Regions from separate parts of the Homo sapiens genome. Here region 1 is linked to region 2. Evidence: fine-mapped expression QTL. Tissue or cell type: tibial nerve. Region 2 holds a variant in brackets; the other region holds the start of a gene. All regions are shown on one strand. Distances are between the middles of the regions.

Region 1 (2,677 bases), 240 kb before region 2:
AAACTGTAACTCCAGCCAATTAGCATGAAAAGCTCAAGAAGCTATTAACCAGAAGTTTCGGCTTTAGGGGACCAGGGACTTGCCCGAGGCCCTGGCATGCGCGGCGGCTAGGTTTAACTTTCAACTCATAGTGACCTTTTCCTTAATTTAATGCAAAAAATCTTTCCCAGAGGTGGAGATTTAAGATGCTAATGATACATACGTCCTATGAAGAAGCATGTTAAACCACCATGCATGCACCAGAAAAACTCCACCTCTACATGCCCTGTCTATAGTTCTCCTTATTTCCCCTTACGGGAGAGGCCCGTAAAAGAAACCCACACCCTGACTTCGAGGAACAGCCCACTTTTTTTTTTCTTGGTGTTAGCTCCCTTGTGCGCACAAGCTTTAATTAAAAGAAAGAAAGAAAGAAAACCAAAAAAACTTGCTTTTTGCTGCGATATCCCTTGATTTCTGTCCTGAAGGATCCAAAGAGCCCTCAGGGAGTCGATACCAGAGCCGTATTTGTTTTTGCAGCAACAGGTTGGCTGCGGGCTCTTCCCCCGCCTTCCAAAGCCCTCAGCCCCTGGCCCACCCTGCAACTTACTCATCTCTCCAACCCTCCTCCCCTAGAACTGCTGCCTCCTGTGCGCAGCCCCTAGCCTGGGCCTGATTCCAATTTCTGTAACATTCCCCTGCCCGGGATTGAATACAGGTTGAAAGTCGGTCTCCTCCGCGCCCCTGAGGCCCAACCCCGGCGCTGAAGCCTCCCAACTCCTGTGTGCAAAGGAGACGGAGACTGAGGGATCTGGGCGCTCTGGCAGGCACAGGAGGGCTCCCCGCCCGTGGCCTCGCCGGAGATGCACCCGGCTCCCAACCCAACAAACCCGCTTTGGGAGGGGATGGGGTGGGGAAAAGAAGACGGGGCTCGGGGCTCGAGGGGAGATATAGAGAAAGCAAGTTAGGTAGAGGAGATGTCCCAGAGGACCCCATTTTCGGGACTGCACCTCCCATTGGAGCTCCCCGCTCCCAAGCCCTCTGGGGACTCCCGCGCTGCCGTCGAAACCCCTATTCCGGCCCCAACGGGGACACTTCTCCAGGATTTGCTCCTCGCCTGTGGGGACCACAGCCAAAGACTCCTGGAATCGATCCCAGATCCTGGGAGTCGGGGGGCCCAGCCGGGGTGCGGGGAGTCGCGGCGTCGTGACTGCACCCGCCCCGCCGCGCCGGGAGGCGCCCCTGGCGACCGTCGCGAACGCCACACCCTCGGTTCGGCCCTGGCCCCGCCCCCGCCCAGAGCGCGTTCGCGGCCAGGGGAGGCGTGTGCTGCTCCCGCAGCCAGCGAGAGCGAGAGAGGGATGGATGTTGGAGGAGGAATTCGGGCTTAACAAGTGATCGCTGCTGTCTAGGATTTTGTTTCTTTTCGGGGGAACCTTGACTTCCTTTCCCAGGCAATCCCTCCTGTGCTGAACTCCAGAGGAACCAGGAGTCTTGGGGTCTTCTCTGGGGCAGCCCCAACCCCCACCCCCAGGCTCCAGCCGCGAGGACTCTGTGCACCCCTCGGGCCAGGCAACAGAACTTGTTCCGTGGATATTTGGAGCCTCCACCTGCCAAACCCGAGTGATTCCTTTTACCACCCCCCGCCCCCCACCCAGGATCATTCTTCCCCTCCTCCAGCTGTTGCAGCTTGAGGGGGAAAAACAAGCCAGCCGGTGGATTTTCTTTATTTTTATTTTTCGCCCCGCCGGGGAACGGTAAGTATGATACCTTTTTTTTTTTTTTTTTTTTTTTGTATCTTTCCTCTACCTTCTTATTTTGGCTGTTAAGAAACAGTGGACATTTGAGGGATAAATAATATCGGGAATGTGACAGAAGGGCATGAATGGAAGGCGGTTAAAAATAAACCAGGAGGTGGGAGAAGGGAGGTGCGGATGCTGCGCGGCGCTCCGGGGGGCCAACAGTTGTTATTTTCCCAAACCCGGGGATGCGGTGAGTGCGCCCTGCTTAACGTGCTGGAGCGGGAACCGAGGTCTGGAGGCGAGGGCGCGATTAAAGATGTCGTTTCCCAACGAGAGGGGGGTTAAGATTTAGCATCGTTTCGCCTCCTCCCAGCCGCACCGGTTCCCTTCTTTTGGGAACAGCCGGTGAACGGGTCTGAATTGCTGCCTCTTCCAACGTTTGGATTTGCGTGCATTTTCCGAGCATTTGAGCAACATACATAGGGGCTGCATAAATGGCGTGCGTTGAAGTGTATATTTCTCACGGTGGTGGCTTTTCTGATTCCCTCTCTCAGTTTCTCTCTCTTTCTCTCTCTCTCTCTCTCTAAGGTTCAGGTACCACCCTGACAGTGACACAGTTGCAGGAATTAGCACTGAGAGACGAACAGCCTTGTTGTTGGAGGGGTGAGAGGAGGAGGGGCGGGATGCTTGGCTGTTGTTTGGGGGCGCCGGGATTGGGGAATAGGTAGTCTGCAAAATCCTATTAGTTTAATGGTGTTAAAGAAGAAGACAAATTCCTCTGCAAAGATCTCTCTCATAAAGGCTCCTGGGAATTGGCTTGAATAGATTCTCCTAACAAGAGTACCTTGAGAAAGAAGAGAGATTTTAAACCAGTCTGATTTGCTGGGAGGAATGATTTTTCTTTTCTCTTCTTTTCTTTCTCTCTCCCTTTCTTTCTAGATCAGGGATAGTGAAGTAAC
Region 2 (2,677 bases):
TGTGCTTATTCTTTTCTAGCCTAGAGAGTATCTGGAACAGGACCTGTAGCCTGGTAGACATTTAACAAACAGCAGCTGCCATTACTGTCATGGATTTGGTGGCCTCAATTCTACTTTGGAGGTATAGTGGCAAAATATACTGAACATCATCTTAGGATTCCAAAAACCACATGTATCCCAACTTCCCCTTCCTAATTGGTTTGATATGGACAAGTTATTGAATCTCTCTGGGACTCAATTTTCTAATATGGAAAATGGAGGTAAAACCTGTCCTATATGTCTACATACTACATAGGATTGTATCAAGGAAAGTAAAGATGCTGAATGTAATAATGTTTTGTTAGAGAAAAAGTACAAAGGTTGATGGCAGTATTGATGATAATGACAACATTACTAGCTACCTATGAAATATTAGTTACGAGGCATAGAGCTAAGGAAATTTCACATAGATTGCATGGTACATTTTTATAGAAACCACATGGAATAAGTATTTGACAGTTGAGGAAATTGAAGCTCAGAGAAGATGCTAGAGGTTGGGTTAGGCAAGTAAGTGCTAGAATTAGGTTTTGAATGGAGGTATGTATTATTTTCTGTCTACCATGCAACTTATTAGCTAATATTTATTGAGCTTTTACTCTAAGCCAGGCACTGCCAAATGCACTCTGTATATATTACTTCAGTGAATCCTCAAAACACTACTCTGAGGGAGAAATTAAATACTGCTATCATCATTTTACAGTTGGGGAAATAATACCTTCACAGTTATTCTATTCATTGTACAGATGGCCAGGTCCCAGCCCCAGAAAGCTTTCTTCTAACTGGGTCACAGAGGGTTCCAGCTGCCCACCCACTACTGGCCCCACAGGGATCCAGGAGAATGCTATTTATGTCTCTTGCCCATCCCACAGAGCCTGGCACCCAGCTCCCTGGGGGAGGACTGCTCTTTGGAATTCCTGGCACTGTCTCCATTCTCCTCCTCCTCATACGCTGCTCATCTCTCCCAGTAATGCCTGCATTCAGTTTGTCTTTTAGCTCAGGCACAGGCAAGCATGGCCCATGCTTAGGGGGCCCAAACTGGTTACTGAAATCTAGCCAGTGCTTCTGGCATCTCATACTTTGGAAAGGAGACTGGTAGGAATTACCAGGGGCAGGATCTTCACCTGCAGCTAACTCTCTGGGAAGGTTTGTTAGAAGGTTTTCTCCACCTGCCAAAACCATGTTTGCTGTGCAGCTGGGTTTGTTGCATGTCTGTGGGGCATTTCCTTCCTGTTTCTGTAGCCCCTTCGGCACTGGGGAGCTGGTAACCTAGGAAATGGCGGTGTGTGGGAGAAGAAGGCTTTGGTGGCGCTAAGTTGCCAGTGTGATTGTCAGCCTGGTGGGCTGACTCTGAGGGGGTAGGTGTGTGAGAGGGTGGCTGAG[G/T]GTGCTGGGCGCGTGCGTGCCTGTGGTAGCTGGAGTGCTGGCACAGCGTGTGGGTGTGATTGCAATGTGAGTGATGCACACTGAGGATAATTGTCAGGCAGCTCAGATTTTTTCTTCTGTCTTTTTTTTTTCTTTTTTTCCCCCTAATTTATAGTAGGTAAAGAAATCCTCCTCTGCATCAGCAAGATAATATTTTTGAAAAGTTTCCAAGGGGATGAATTATGTGCTGTCTCAATTCCTCAGTGTTATTGATTCTCCAAGGCTTTGTGACTAATATTTCTTAATGAGGGGGCCTGGGGTCTGGATGAAGCTTGAGAAGCCAGCCTTGCCTCCTTTTTAGCATGAAAGGAATGCAAGCCAGATGCACCCTGGGGAAAGGTCACCTGCAGAGGCCAACCTTAGTTTTTGTATCCAACCTCCACTCCCCATCCCCACCTTTTGGTAGTACTAGATCCAAGTTTGCTTTAGAAACACATCCCACTCTTATTCTTGATTCACGGGTTTGGTAAAGACTATCCCCACACCCCTTTAGGGAAGGCTCATAACCCAGACCCAAGCCATATTAGCATATGTCATGTAACTACTACATTGGCCAGTTCAAGCATGGGCCGGAGACTCAAATCAGACTGAAATGTTAATACTGAAGAACTGAGATTTTTTTTTTTCCAGAGACAGGGTTTCATTCTCTTGCCCAGGCTAGAGTGCAGTGGCATGATCATAGCTCACTTGGAGGCTCACCTCAGCCCCCCAGCCTCAAGCGATCTTCCCACCTCAGCCTCCCAAGTGGCTGGGATGACTGCCCAGCTTGAAGGATTTTTTTTTTTTATTTCTAAAATGAAAGATGTAATTTTAGAATTTTTGGCAATAATCTTATCTAGATAGTCTGCATGAAAATGGAGCTAACACTAAAGGATTTAGGAAGAGGGAAAGGAACAGAGCCTAAGTCATATCATCTAAGCCTCTGGATCCAGCTGTTCTTGAGGCAGGTTCCATGCCTAAACTTTTTCATCATAGAAATCAATTAGCTCCTTTTGTGCTGCACTCAGTTTGAGATGAGTTTCCTGTGACAGGAAAACTGCTTTTCAACTGGGAGAGATTCTGCCAACAGGGGACATTTGGCAATGTCTGGAAATGTTTTTGTTTGTCACAACGGAGAAGAGGTACCACTGGCATGTAGTGGGTAGAGGCCAGGGAGGTGGCTAGATGTTCTAGGATGCACAGGACAGCCCTCACAATAATTTCTGGTCCAACATGTCAA

Which allele goes with the higher level. Alleles are on the strand shown, and positions count from the first base shown. SD is a standard deviation of normalised expression in the study named.
As copies of G replace T in region 2, the expression in tibial nerve of the gene that starts at base 1,275 in region 1 goes down (large effect, 1.0 SD a copy in GTEx).

What was found. PIP is the estimated chance that this variant, and not a neighbour inherited with it, causes the effect.
Region 1: it holds the start of KCNA4, and the variant in region 2 is the best candidate, but not a certain one, in a credible set for the expression of KCNA4 in tibial nerve (GTEx, PIP 0.88).

The regions. Positions count from the first base shown.
Region 1 is chr11:30,015,628-30,018,304 of GRCh38, reverse strand. It overlaps KCNA4 (potassium voltage-gated channel subfamily A member 4), which reads left to right and starts at 1,275. Exons shown (of 2, transcript NM_002233.4): 1 at 1,275-1,733.
Region 2 is chr11:29,779,717-29,782,393 of GRCh38, reverse strand. No RefSeq gene overlaps it. Among named protein-coding and RNA genes, the nearest start is that of LINC02546, 190 kb to the right of the region's middle. The variant G/T (reference allele first, on the strand shown) is at 1,420.